4 linked regions of the Homo sapiens genome follow. The protein of the gene in region 3 purifies or fractionates together with the protein of the main gene of each other region. This does not show direct contact. Each region holds a gene or a part of one and is shown on either strand. Other genes may lie near its edges. The genes, in order: WDR47, NAPG, FAIM and THUMPD1.

Evidence for each region.
Region 1: the proteins of FAIM (region 3) and WDR47 purify together in Homo sapiens (affinity purification with mass spectrometry; one large-scale study listed by BioGRID and IntAct). This does not show direct contact.
Region 2: the proteins of FAIM (region 3) and NAPG purify together in Homo sapiens (affinity purification with mass spectrometry; one large-scale study listed by BioGRID and IntAct). This does not show direct contact.
Region 4: the proteins of FAIM (region 3) and THUMPD1 fractionate together in Homo sapiens (co-fractionation; one large-scale study listed by BioGRID). This does not show direct contact.

The regions. Positions count from the first base shown.
Region 1 is NC_000001.11:108,972,872-108,976,308, forward strand, and holds part of WDR47 (WD repeat-containing protein 47), read right to left. Parts: intron 1,884-3,437; coding exon 1,665-1,883; intron 1-1,664.
Region 2 is NC_000018.10:10,535,850-10,539,592, reverse strand, and holds part of NAPG (gamma-soluble NSF attachment protein), read right to left. Parts: intron 661-3,743; exon of another isoform or gene 622-660; coding exon of another isoform or gene 619-621; intron 1-618. UniProt on the Homo sapiens protein: Required for vesicular transport between the endoplasmic reticulum and the Golgi apparatus.
Region 3 is NC_000003.12:138,607,269-138,611,610, reverse strand, and holds the start of FAIM (fas apoptotic inhibitory molecule 1), read right to left. Parts: upstream 2,841-4,342; 5' UTR 2,674-2,840; intron 2,563-2,673; exon of another isoform or gene 2,465-2,562; intron 1,008-2,464; exon of another isoform or gene 654-1,007; coding exon of another isoform or gene 574-653; intron 1-573. UniProt on the Homo sapiens protein: Plays a role as an inducible effector molecule that mediates Fas resistance produced by surface Ig engagement in B cells.
Region 4 is NC_000016.10:20,733,135-20,736,205, forward strand, and holds the end of THUMPD1 (THUMP domain-containing protein 1), read right to left. Parts: 3' UTR 530-3,071; downstream 1-529. UniProt on the Homo sapiens protein: Functions as a tRNA-binding adapter to mediate NAT10-dependent tRNA acetylation modifying cytidine to N4-acetylcytidine (ac4C).

The sequences.
Region 1 (3,437 bases), on a different chromosome or scaffold from region 3:
GGAGGTGGAGCTTGCAGTGAGCCGACATTGCACCACTGCGCTCCAGCCTGGGCGACAGAGCGAGACTCTGTCTCAGAAAAAAAAAAAAAAAAAGTCTATAAAACCCTGCCTCTGATTTATTCTTCTGTGTCTCTCTCTCTTAGTTCACTAAGTTCCAGGCACATTGGCTTCCTGTAGTGTCATGAACGTGCTAAGCTGGTTCCTACTTCAGCATCTTTATACTTGCTGTGCTCTTCTCCTAATATCCTGGCCTGGCTTGTTCCTCCTCATCATTCTGGTCTCTATGCAAATGGCATTTCCTTGGAGAGACCTACTCCAATTATCCTATTTAAAATAGCCTTCCCCCTGCAGTGAGCCAAGATGCACCACTGCACTCCAGCCTGGGCAACAGAACAAGACTCTGTCTCAAAATAAATAAATAAATAGCCTTCCCCTATTCACCCTAGTCACTATCTCCCTACCATACTAATTTTTTAAACAGCACAAATACCTAAAATTACATTGTTTATTGGTTTACTTTTTATTGACCTCTAAAATATAAGCTCCATCAGGGAGGGAATTAACTGTCTTATTCTCATCTGTCAGTCCCTAATTGATATACAATAAATATTTGCTTGATGAATGTTTAAAACTAAAACTAGATACTAAGACCTAATTACAAAGATTGTATGCTAATGATTTTTTAATGTAGAAGCTAATAACAGTACACAAATCCATCATTTATCTCAGAATGAGTCACTATAAATAAATGTTGATTTTAAAAAATATCTTAAGCGGAGGCAGGAGGATCACTTGAGGCCTGGAATTCAAAACCAGCCTGGGCAACATGGCAAGATCCCATCTTTACAAAAAAATTTTTAAAATGTGCCATCCATGGTGGTGCACAGATGTAGTTCCAGCTATTCGGAGGCTGAGGCAGAAGGATGGCTTGAACCCAGGAGGTCAAGGGTGTAGTGAGCAATAATCGTGCCACTGCACTCCAGCCTGGGTGAAAGAGTGAGACCCTGCCTCAAAAAAAAAAAATCAAAAACTAACAATAAGGTTGGGCATGATGGCTCACGCCTATAATCCCAGCACTCTGGGAGGCCAATGCAGGCAGATCGCTTGAGCTCAGAAGTTTGAGACCAGCCTGCGCAACATGGCAAAATTTTGTCTCTACAGAAGATACAAATATTAGCCAGGTGAGGTGGCATGCACCTGTAGTCCTAGCTACTTGCAGGGCTGAGGTGGGAGGATCACTTGAGCAGGGGAGATAAGAGGATACAGTGAGCTAAGATCACACCACTGCACTCCAGCCTGGGCGACAGAGCGAGACCCTGTCTCAAAAACAAAAACAGGCTGGGCGTGGTGGCTCACGCCTGTAATCCCAGCACTTTGGGAGACGAAGGCGGATGGATCACTTGAGCCCAGGAGTTCGAGACCAGCCTGGGCAACATAGTGAGCCCCTGCCTCTATAAAAACAAAAACAAAACCTAACAATAAGACTATTCACTGCTTATTTAATAATTTGCTATTATATATCTTAATATAGTCTCAGAATCTGCTCAATAAATACTATAAAATAATTGAAAGTATTATATAATCAACCACATCACATTAACAAAAAAATAAAGGTCCCAAATAGAACAGGAAAGACTAAAAACAGAGAAGTCGATCTCAATCACCTTGTAGGTCTGTCACCTTTATTTTCATATCATAAGAGCCTGTTAGCAAGTAGTGAGCTCCAGGGGAGAATCGAACAGAGCGAACATCACTGGAATGAGGATGATAACTTTGTACCATTCTTCCTCCTCTTATGTCATACAACATGCAGCTAGAATCTTCTTGACCTGTGGCTAAGAGACGACCACTGGGATCTACAGCTACAGATGCCACTGCACTGCCTGTAGTGGTAGGAATGAAAGTTTAAATACAGAAAATCAATATACCCAAATGGCAACACAGCTGATTATGTCCATTGAACCATATACTAAAGATTTAATGTAGTTTATCAATACTATTCAGCGATGAAAAAATCCAAATTAACAGTTAACCAATAAACAGTTGTGTCCTTTTAAGGCCCAAGGCCTAAACAAAATTTTGTAAGAAATGAGAAAGTCCATTTTTTGTCATTTGAGAGAACTGTGTGCAACAGCATCACCTATAGTGCAATAGATGAGCCATGCTACAGAAACCACTTTTCTCAATCCAGTGTTTTCACTACTGGAAGTATCTAGAAATGCTCCTATACCCAGCTAAGAGTGTAGTTAAAGAGACAAGAAATTCAGTAACAAAATGTATTTTAGGACAACAGTATAGGAAATGTACTAAAGCAACACAAGATTACTGCCAATAGGAACTGTGAACAGAAAATAAGCTCTTGGGGGCATATATTCAGGGCAACTTGAATCCTTGTCTCCCAGAAATAAAATAAATAATTTTATTTTATAAATTATTATAATTAATAATTATTTTGTTAATTAATTATACAGGCTGGGCGCGGTGGCTCATGCCTGTAATCCAGCACTTTGGGAGACCGAGGCAGGTGGCTCACAAGGTCAGGAGATCGAGACCAGCCTGGCCAACATGGTGAAACCCCATCTCTACTAAAAATACAAAAGTTAGCCGAACGGAGTGGCACGTGCCTGTAATCCCAGCTACTCACGATGCTGAGGCAGGAGAATCGCTTCAACCTGGGAGGCGGAGGTTGCAGTGAGCTGAGATTGCGCCACTGCACTCCAACCTGGGCGACAGAGCGAGACTCCATCTCAAAAAAAAATAATAAATTTTTTTGAGACAGAGTGAGACCCTGTCTCAAAAAAATAAATTAAAAAAAAAAAAGTTTGAATAACACTGCTCTAGACCAAAGTGGTCTAGGAAGACTTCATAAAAAAATGGGACACAAGTTAGACCTTGAAAAACAATAAACAGCATAAATAAGAGTATGTATGTATGTATACACAGGCGAACACATACATTTGTATGTAATAAAGAATAATCTTTTCTTGAAATACTGAAAGAGAAGAGGGCTATTACGATCAGGAAGAATTACATGAGAAAAGGTTTAGAGGAAAAGTATAAAACAGCTTACAGGAAGGTAGATCAGTTTGGCTGGAGATAAAAGTTAACTTGAAAGGCAGCTTGAAACTGAAATGCAAAAGGTAGGTTAGGGCCAGGCCGTCAAGCGCCTAAATCTCAAACTGCAGAGTTTTGAACTTGTCTCTGTAAACAGTAAAGCATCATTGTAGGTTTCTAAGCAAGAGAATTACATGATTCGAGCAGTACTTTGAGTAATCTAAGTGAAAATGTGTATCAAATTAAAGTGGAAAGATTGTAGAACAAAAGAGGCCACTAGAAGACAAGAAAGATTTCAGGAACAAAACCTGAATAAACAGTCAACAGTCTTGGAAATTAACTGCCTGAGTGGGGCAGTTAATTAAAATAAAGCAAAAATGAGT
Region 2 (3,743 bases), on a different chromosome or scaffold from region 3:
TCAACCCATCATCTAGGTTTTAAGCCCCGCATGCATTAGGTATTTGTCCTAGTGCTCTCCCTCCCCTTATTCCCCAGCCCCCGACAGGCCCAGGAGTGTGATGTTCCCCTCCCTGTGTCCATGTGTCCTTGTGGTTCAATTCCCACGTATGAGTGAGAACATGCGGTGTTTGGTTTTCTGTTCCTGTGTTTGTTAGTTTGCCAAGAATGATGGCTTCCAGCTTCATCCATGTCCCTGCAAAGGACATGATCTCATTCTTTTTTACAGCTGCATAGTATTCCATGGTGTATATGTACCACATTTTCTTTATCCAGTCTATCACTGATGGGCATTTGGGTTGGTTCCATGTCTTTGCTATTGTAAATGGTGCTACAATAAACATACGTGTTTACTGTATAAACATACGTTTCTATAGAATGATTTATGTTCCTTTGGGCATATGCCCAGTAATGGGATTGCTGGGTCAAATGGTATTTCTGGTTCTAGATCCTTGAGGAATCCCCACACTGTCTTCCACAACGGTTGAACTAATTTACACTCCCACCAACAGTATAAAAACTTTCCTATTTCTCCACAGCCTGGCCAGCATCTATTGTTTCCTGACTTCTTAATCATCACCATTCTGACTGGCGTGAGATCTCATTGTGGTTTTGATTTGCATTTCTCTAATGATCAATGATGATGAGCTGTTTTTCATGTTTCTTGGCTGTATGTCTTCTTTTTCTACAAGGAACTTAAATTTACAAGAAAAAAAAAACCCAATCAAAAAGTGGGCAAAGGATATGAAATACAATTATTTTATCCCTAATTCATGAAAGTAAATGACTCAAATACATTGTATAGCAATAAAGATATTTAAAATGAAATGCTTCACATGATTACTCTCCCAATCAAGCTTCATTAAACCCAATCAAAAAGGTACCAGGTAATTTCTACACAGAGTTCATCATCACTTCACAGACCTTTGGGAAATCTATGAAAATAGAAAAAACCAAAAACCTTGCTCTTTACTGTTTTCTAAGCACTTCTTATTCTTTAAACATTTACCAAGTCCCTACTACATACAAGACCTATGCCAAGGATCACAAACTGGCAGCCCAATGACTCTATCTCACTTCCAAGTGTGTTTTGCTTGATCCATGCAGTATTTTTAAATTAGATACTTTCATGAAAATTGTTTTATGGCTTTCTTCAAAAAAATATCAAAAGCTACGGCATCAGCAGGCTTGCATCCCTGTATGGCAACAGGCTGGGGCTGGGCAGCACTGTCCCGCCACATGAGCATGCACCTCCTGGCGCTTCTCCCCGCTCTTCACTTCCAAATGCCCTCCACGTCCCAGCTGCTCATTCATTTTAGTTATTCCTCTACACCCTGAGTTCATCTGAGTTTGCAACCCTCTTCCATGACTAATAAATTCTGTATCTTACTATTAATCTACACATCTCAGGATCATGCAGTCCTAATGTCTAATATCTCCAAATCAAACATTTTAAAAATAAACTTAAAAAAAAACACCGTTTAAAAGCTAGTTATAAAGTTTACATAAGCAACTTATTTAGTGTTGACTTGCTGTATCTTAAGGTAGGCTCCACACTGACATCTCATGGGTGGTTTACAAATCTGCCTATTCAGTCCCTTGCTAAGTTGACAAATTCATTAGGATACCCTTAACAAAACTGGTCTCATTTTCGCCAACCCCAAAACATAACTTTATTATTTAGCTATGGAAACTAACAATAACACAGACTGAAAGACACTGTATGAAATAAGACTGCTATCATTCACTCAAGCAGAATGAAATGCTAATGCATTTCCAAACCTCAGTGAAAAAATAAAAACAATACTTTTTTTGTTATAAAACCAAAAGTCAATGAAAGAATCCGAGTCTACAATATCTGCTGAAAAATATCTGAATGAACAGGGGAGGTAAACCTAACAAAATCTCTCTCAGACACATTAGTCCTGAGGGTCATTTTGGCTTTTAAAGAATACAACTGAACCTTGAACAGCAGAGATTTAAACTGTGCTGGTCCAATTATACGCAGACTGTCTTGCTCCTCTGCCACCTGAGACAGCAAAACCAACCCCTCTTCTTCCTCCTCCTCCTCTTCCTCCTCCTCAGCCCAAACGTGAAGACTATGATGAGGATGAAGAGCCCTATGATGCTCTACTTCCACTTAAAGAACACTAAATATATTTTCTCTTCCTTACGATTTTCTTAATATTTTCTTTTCTCTAGCTTTATTCTAAGAATACAGTATAAAACATATTCCATACAACATACAACATATGTACTAACTGACTGTTTATATTATTTATAAGACTTCCAGTCAGTAGTAGGGTAGTGGCTCACGCCTATAATCCCAGCACTTTGGGAGGTTGAGGCAGAAGTATCACTTGAGCCCAGGAGTTTGAGCCCAGCCTGGGAAAAACAGCGAGAACCAGTCTCTACCAAAAAAATTAAAAAATTAGCAGGGCATGGTGACATGCACCTATAGTCCCAGCTACTCAGGAGGCTGAGGTGGGAGGATCGCCTGAGCCCAGGAGGTTGAGGCTGCAGTAAGCCATGATTGTGCCACTGCAATCCAGCCTGGGCAACAGAGCAAGATCCTGTCTCAAAAAAAAAAAACAAAAACAGGCTATTAGTAAAGTTTTTGGGGAGTAAAAAGTTATATGTAGAGTTTCAACTGCACAAGGGGTTGGCATCCCAACCCTTGGGTAGTTCAAGGGTCAACTGTATTTCCTCCCCAAATATACCTACCCACTAATTACATATATAATGTGAATCTACAACATAAAAGCATTTGGGAGGATAAAAAAACCACAGGAACTATTCGTCATGAGTTTTACCCAGTAGATAGAGCAAAAAATACATTAGAAGGCAGTAAAAATGGCATCCGAGTCCTATTTGTTGTTTAAAAATTAGCAACTACATCTTCCTGTTTTTGCGTAAAATCAAGTGAGGCTGTGAGTAAGAGGTCCAACCACAATATTGATACTTCTCCATAAAAAATGATGAGCTGCCTACTTGAAAGTTATACCCTCCACCATAAATATGCCTATTTTCAATGGCTGTGTGCCAGTGGAGCAAACAGGATATGAAATCACAGCAGTCATCAAGTGACAGAACCAAAGGTTGATCCAACAAGTTTCTGTGGCTTCCCTTGTGCATATGTCTACAAAATGGCACTCCCCAAGCCTTTCTGGTGAATCAGTGTGAAGGTTTGTATGACAAATTGGTAGAAATTTTAGCCCACAGAATTGTGGACCACGTAGCTCAGGGGTCCTGTGCTCCCAACAGTGTCCAAAGGCATTTAATTTAAATATAAGACAATGCCAGAAAGCATTTTCCTTCATCTGTTTCCCTATCCACTAAGTTAATTTTCTTTCATTCAAAGTAGTGCCTTTCCAACCCTCAAATTAAATAGATACTTGAGCAATGGAAATGATGCCTGAATAATAACTTTTGATGAAGATTCAAGTCTTAGTACAGCTGTTGTAATATAAACTGAGGCTGTGAGAATTAGAGTGTTTGAGCATTTCTTAAACAGGCATGAAGTACACTAAGAATGTAACAGCCACCTGGGAGCTTCCTAATTCTCAGAGGAAAATGAGACATAAGAAGACCAGAGCAGATCCCCAGCTTCTTTGGCCGTAAGAGAAACTCTATGGTTTCAAAGGAACTGTGGTTAATAACCTAACTTGCGGCACCAAATACCAATTCAGTTGCATGTTTGGCCAG
Region 3 (4,342 bases):
TACTGCCACACTGGGGATCAAATTTCAACATGAGATTTGGTAAGTACAAATATCCAAACCATAGCACAGAGTTATTGCTTAATGGTTACTGTGTTTCTGTTTAAGGTATTGAAAAGTTTGGCAAATAGATAGTGACAATGATCGCACACTATTGTGAATGTACTTAATGCCCCTGAATTGTACACTAAAAAATTGTTAAAATGGCAAATCTATGTTGTATATATTTTACCACTTCAAAAAGTTAATTATATTAGAAAGAATTGTATACTTTAAATGGGTGAATTTTATGGTATGTGAGTTATATTTCAGTAACGTTGTTAAAAAAAAAAACAAAAAAAGAAAAAAAAATGCAGGTGTCCTGGCTGTAGTGTTTCTTGGGATGCAACTGCACCTGTAACCAAAAGATGATAACATCTGTCCTTGTCCCCAATTTCCACTTCACTCAGAAATATCTGTCACATAGATCTCTAAGTTACAAATTCAATTTAATAAACACATGTCATATTCTAAGTTCATCCAGCATACCAATAGTTATTGGGTACTTATGTACCAGGCTCTGGGCAGGGCACTAACCTCAGAGTGGCAGAGTCCGGAGATACCAAGAGATGATTATAGCACAACAGTGGGAGTGTCCTTATAAAGGGAAGCAGCATAGGATAGAATGGGCCATAGAGGAAGGGTCGTAGCTCTGCCGAAGAAGGCTTTGGTTTAAAACTTTGGAGAAAGTGGCCAGGCGCGATGGCTCACACCCCGTAATCCCAGCACTTTGGGAGGTCAAGGCGGTCGGATCACTTGAGGTCAATAGTTCAAGACCAGCCTGGACAAAACGGTGAAATCCTGTCTTTGCAAAAATAGAAAAATTTGCCGGGCATGGTAGCGCACGTCTGTAAATCCCAGCTACTCCGGAGGCTGAGGCACAAGAATCGCTTGAACCCGGGAGGTGGAGGTTGCAGTGAGCCGAGATCATGCCACTGCACTCCAGCCTGGGTGACAGAGGGAGATTCTGTCTGAAAAATAAAAAAATGAAACTTGGGAGCAAGAAATTAATCCACTGTTGTTTTTAAACTCTTATGCATGTACTTAATTTTCAAGATTCTATGACCAAACTGGAAAATGATAAATACAAAAAACCCTCTATTTTTGCAAATATTTTATTAAAATGTAAATTTAAAAAGATGAAAAACCATATTCCACTTACTTTCACTGATGGAGATGATACCAAGCACTTGAAACTTTTTACATGTCTTTAAAGAAAGCTTTTTGCGTATCTCATACGTACCCATCAATCTTTTAAAATCCCTTCCCTAGCAACCCAACACCTAAGTTTCAGAGCATGACTTAAACACCAACACGTTGCCACTGTTCATCTAATCCACCTGAATTTTGCCTTAACTTAGGTTTATTCTTACTGGGGACTGAAATGGTTCGTTCAAGATAAACCGAAGTCAGTTTAAAAATTACTAGATGATAGTAGTTACTAAGATGCTCATGGTTCCCTTTTCAGCAAAGGCCCCCAGGTAGGGCCAGCCAATAATGCAAGTCACACTCAAGTGTTGACATCTTCATCTCCGGGCCGGCCCCTTATGAAGTGAGGGGGGTCTCCAGTAAAATCACTCAGGAAGCTCCTCGAGCCAAGTATTCCCAAATGCTACTTACTGGAGGTACAAAAAGGAGAATAACTTTTCTGAGGGCCATTTCACAATCTATACCAGAAGCCTTGTGGTATAGACCGTGGATTCTATCTTGTTTTAGAACGAATCTTGTGCGATTCTTTCTACAGAAATGATCACGCTCAAAAACCCAGATACAACGATGCTCAATGAATTACTTTTTGCAATAACTAAAAACTGAAAACCACTTGTACGCTCACCATCAGGGAGAAACTACATTTAGTAAATCACAGTCCAAAGCCATGCCAAGAGTCAGGGATGGATGAGGTAGTCAACCTGACACACAGGAATGTACAGTCGAGAGAGAGAGAGAGAGAGAGAGAGAGTCGAGAGAGAGAGAGAGAGAGTCGAGAGAGAGAGAGTCGAGAGAGAGAGAGAGAGAGAGAGAGAGAGAGAGAGAGAGAGAGTTTCAGCACTTTATGATGCAGGTTCTGCAAAAACAAGCCCCGCTCATGTTACAAGGAAAAACCATCTGGAAGAATATACACCCTCATGTTAACGCAGCTTGTCTCTGGGGAGCAGCGGCACGGCTGCTTTGCTTGCTTCCTTGCTTTCTGTTCCACGTTTTCGACAGTGAGAAGTATTATCTTTAGAGGTCGCGAACAGGCCGGAGGAGGGTGCGGCAGGTCGCGGGGCAGGGCCTCGCTAGGCAGGGACGCCCCCGCACCGCCCCGGGCTGGCCCCGCGCCCCGCGCCCCGCCGCACCTCCACCTTTGCCGGCGGTGAGCGGGAGCCGCGTCCCGCCCCGAGGTCTGGGATCACCGGCGGGCCGGCTGGAAGCGTCCGGAACTCACCCAGCGTCTCACCCGCGCGGGTCTCACCGACCGCGCAAACACCGCCCGCCGCCGCCGCCCAGAGATGGCCGCCGCCGGCGCAGCAGGGCCGAGAGCGTGGGGACGCCGGGGGGCTGAGTGCAGGGGTTTCCAGGGTGCGGAGCGGGCGGGCCCGAGGCGTCCGGGCGGGCGCAGGCGCGACACCGACCCCACCCGGTCTGCTGCCTCACCTGTGCTCTGTGGGCCGCGGGAGGCTCTGGGGTAGGTTTCACCAAACAACCGGTTGGTTCCGACTCGGCTGCGTAGGCCGCGTGGCCTTGCTCCCCTGGCCGAGAAACAGGCGCAGCCGGCGCGGAGGTTGAAAGCTCTGCAGGCGCGAGTACCAAACGCGCCGACTGTTTGTCGCGCCTCTCAGGTCCCCTGGGGCGACCAGCGCAGGAGGCCACCCCTCCCGCCGCCACGGACCCAACCCTGGTCCTCTGCCTTAGCCGAAGGCCGCACCCTCCGCGCATAGGCCTTCCTCAGCCCCAACCCAGGACATCACCATGTCCCGCAGTGCGTCCAGTCTTCCTGCCAGCAAGTGTGGGTAGGAGCCGGCCGCTGGCCCCGCTCTGGGCTAGACGGTGGGGACATACTGGCGGGCAAAAACAGCCCTGTGCCTGCTCTGCAGCTATGGGGAAGGAATATCTGTTCATGGCAGCAATAGCATTCGCTCCTTAAAACCTCTTTATGAGTCTCATTCCTTTTTTAAAGACCCAAACTACTTAAGGTGGGCATGAAGCCCCCATGTGTGATCTAGCCTCTGCCTGCTTGGCTTCATTTAGGTCCTTAAAGGATGCAGGTTTCTTCTCGCCCAGGGCCTCTGCAAATGCTCTTCTCTCTGCCTGGACACTCCTCACCTCTTCCCTATTGTGAGAGTTCTTCATATATCATTTCTTAGATTACACTATCCTGGCCCATAAGACTTGCAGCATTGCTGGGTGTGGTGGCTCATACCTGTAATCACGGCATTTTGGGAGGCAGAGTGGCGGATCTCTTGAGTCCAGGAGTTCAAGACCAGCCTGGGCAACATGGTAAAAAAAAAAAAAAAGAGAGAGAGAGAATGAGAAAGAAGAAAAGAAAATAATTAGCGGCTCAGGCCTGTAATCCTAGCTACTTGGGACGCTGAGGTGGGAGAATTGCTTGGGCCCTGAAGGGAGGTAGAGGCTGCAGAGAGCTGTGATTGCACCACTACACTCCAGCCTGGGCAACAGAGCGAGACCCTGTTTCATTAAAAAAAACACACACAAAAAGAAACAGCCGGGCTCAGTGGCTCACGCCTGTAATCCCAGCACTTTGGGATGCTGAGGCAGGCATGGCAAAACCCCGTCACTACTGAAAATATAAAACTTAGAGGGGCGTGGTGGTGCATGCCTGTAGTCCCAACTACTTGGGAGGCTGAGGCAGGAGAATCGCTTCAACCTGGGAGGTGGAGGTTGGAGTGAGCTGAGATTGAGCCACTGCACTCCAGCCTGGGCGAAGAGCAAGACTCTGTCTCAAAAAAAAAAAAAAAAAAAAACAGCCGGGCACAGTGGCTTACACCTGTAATCCCAGCACTCTGGGAGGCCAGGTGCGGATTGCCTGAGGTCAGAAGTTTGAGACCAGCCTGGCCAACGTGGTGAAACCCTAGCTCTACTAAAAATACAAAAATTAGCCGGGCGTGGTGGCATGCGTCTGTAATCCCAGCTACTCAGGAGGCTGAGGCAGGAGAATCACTTGACCTTGGGAGGTGGCAGTTGCAGCGAACTGAGATCGCCTCACTGTACTGCAGCCTGAGCCACAGAGTGATACTTCGTCTCAAAAACAAAAACAAAAAAAACACAAAAATTGCAGCACCAGGGATTCTTCTTCCTAGCCCCT
Region 4 (3,071 bases), on a different chromosome or scaffold from region 3:
TAAATAAAAGTCTAAAAATATATGGATGAAAATTGTTTCAATAACCAAACTGACAAAGGTAATGATGGTTTCTAGTGTTTAAAATTGCAGGAGTCAAATGATTACTTAGAAAAAGAAAGTGCACAATGAATCTGTATTTCATCTATCTTGTGCCTGATTAATTCAAAATAAAGATATATCCTAAATGTTCAAGACAATTTCTTCTACTTAACAACTTTATGAGACCAAACTTCAATATATTAAAATACTGTTAAAATGAGTATAAATAATTCAAAAATCAGTAAGTGAATTTAATGAAAGTAAGTACTGTATTACTATGGCTCATTTTGAAGCAAATTAACTGTAAAATATCTGAAACTTGGATTTAGAAGTATTAATTATTCAAGGGTAATAATTTTTTAATGTTTTTTAGGCTCATGTCCATGGCATTTTATAATTTGACATATAAACATATTTTATGATATATATATACTATAAAGCAAGAGATTTACTAAGAGTCAGAAAGAAAGAAAAAATATTAGAACACCAATTTTTAGGGAACAAATTTATTTTGATTTTTCTGAAAATATCAGGAACTATGAAAAAACAAGCTCGATTTCTGGCCGTACCAAAAGCAAAATACAAGTAAAAATAACATTTGAAAACCAAGTTTAACCTCAGAGAATCATGTTTTAAAATACAAAGTTTAACATTCTTTCCTCTATGGAGCTAAACAAGTTTTCTAAACCATAAGACTGCAGTTTTTTTATTTTTTTAACTGACGTAATTTTTTAAAAGAAAAAACAAAAGGGGAATAAAAAGCACTTCCTACCCTGGAATCCCGTCATTTATAAAATAACATGCTCAAATGTCAGTGAAAATAAACAGTTGATAAACCTGAAAACAAGTCTTTTAATGAGTTCAGGTTACAACCGAACACAGGATTTTGTAACTGGGAAAGAACAGCTTGTGTAACAACCGATTCTTACCAAATACAAATAAATATAAAAGACAATTTAAAAACAAACTGTATAATCAAAATCTTTCCGTAAAATAGCAGCTTTCACAAAGTAAAAACAATTTAGTTCCACAGAGTTGTATGCTCTGTAGGCATATGGCCAATTTTCTTCCGAGTCCTTTTGTCTTGCACTATCAAAATAGAATCTTTGTCTTGGAGCAAGTCTGCTGAAGAAGGCACCAAAATCCTATCCTCCCTATTCCCCTAACTGATATTAATAATCCTCTTATCAATCATTGCAAGGTAACTTCAATGTCATTAAGTATTAACATTCTAAATATGTAAAGCTATAGAAGGAAGGTCCTGCCTATTCTCTTTGCCCCTCTCAAATCATTCTAGTCTGGTTTACCAAACAGAACCACCAGCTAGGAGGATAAAAATACATTCCCATGTTCACTAGCCATTAAATGAACATAGCCACTTGTGCAGGAAGCCTAACATTTTTAGGATTTCCTAACTTTTTAAAACTTAAGGATAAGTCCATTTCTACAAGCTAATTTTACAGCTCCTTAATATTCTTAATCTGGACAGTTAATTTTGCAGACTTTGTTGGTGTCTGCCTTTTCAATTGTTTTACCCAAAAAGAGGCCTTGAAAAAACTTTCAAATTCAGGAAACCCCTAAACCCCTGCAGAGAACCCTCATGGTATGTGAGTGTGAGCACTAAGTTGAAGAATACTCTTATTTCACAGAAATCTAGGACTGTCAGACTAGGGCTGAGTTCATTCTCTTCCTTCAGAGACAAAATTTCAAGCTGAGCAGATTCAGAGACAAGGGTTCCTCATAGGTTATATACTAGTGCTGGGAAAAGGAGAGAAAATGCTATTTCATTGGGTCTTGTGGTTCCTCCAGCCGGGTTAGAACAAGATTTGAGAGTTGCACCCTTTATTTTCAAGGCCAAGTGGCTGCAGAAACATTTCAAGAATTCCTCTGGCAAGGTGGCAAGTCAGTTTCCTTTTAGATCTAAGAGTCTTGTCGCTTTAAGAAAAATTTTTTTCCCCAGAACCTTTCAGAGACTTGTCCATTTGTTCATGTGATGAAAAACGTCTGCAAAATAGGCTACTTTCTGTAGTCATTTTTCATTTCCAAAGCACTCAGCAAAAGCTGGCTGTTTTATTGTAAGTACTCTGGCAATTCACCTTTCAATTCAAATATCCTGTAGAGAACGCTTCCTCTGAGAAGCCACTGGATGTCTGTATGGTGCAGGAGGTTTATGTGCTGTCTGTCCAGGTTTTTGTTTTGGGTGTTTTTTTTTTTTTTTAACATTTTTGCATAAATGGGTCTTTGATACAGGTAACCAGTTTTGTAACATTATTCAGAACTTCACTGTATCTTCAAGTTTTTGATATCAGCATCTCTGTGGAGAAAGCAGTGTGCTATAATGTCAACATCAGGATTTCTTTTTTTTTTTTTAATAACGCAAAATGACTTATGGAGACAACCACTGATGGGGCACCAGGAGTGTAGATACCAGACCTCTGGTTATCAGATATGATGTCACAACATTATATATTGGCCTTTGTTCTGGCAGGCTCCTAGCAATAGAAAAAGTTTTCTTTGAATTTCATCATTTACAAATCTTACAAATGCTACAGCATGACAAATATTAGTGAAACCTGTTGACTCATCATCCTGGATAGAGAAGCTGCTACTTTTCAGTTAATGACACAAAACCTTTTTTGCATCATATGACATATCATCAGTAAATCAACTTATTGAGAATAAAGTCTCTTCAACTTTGTACTGCATCTTGCCCCAGCATTTTAATGTTATTAGATTCTCACCAACCATGCATATTTTCCTTTCCTGAGATAAGTTCTGCTACTAAATAATTTGCTTCTTAAACCTTTTGACTAAAGGTGATTTCTGAACAAAAGCCTTACTGTTTTTGATAGTCCAAAAGCCATTTGAAAATAATGAATATCCTTTCTTGTCAAGTGGCTGTGATTTATTGTTACAATTGCTAGTTTTGTAAGTTGCATGTCACAGACAATGCACAATGGGACAGGAGAGCTTGGACTGAGTCCACATAATACCCTTGAGAAGTAGCTTTCTTTATTAAGACAGAATTTCTT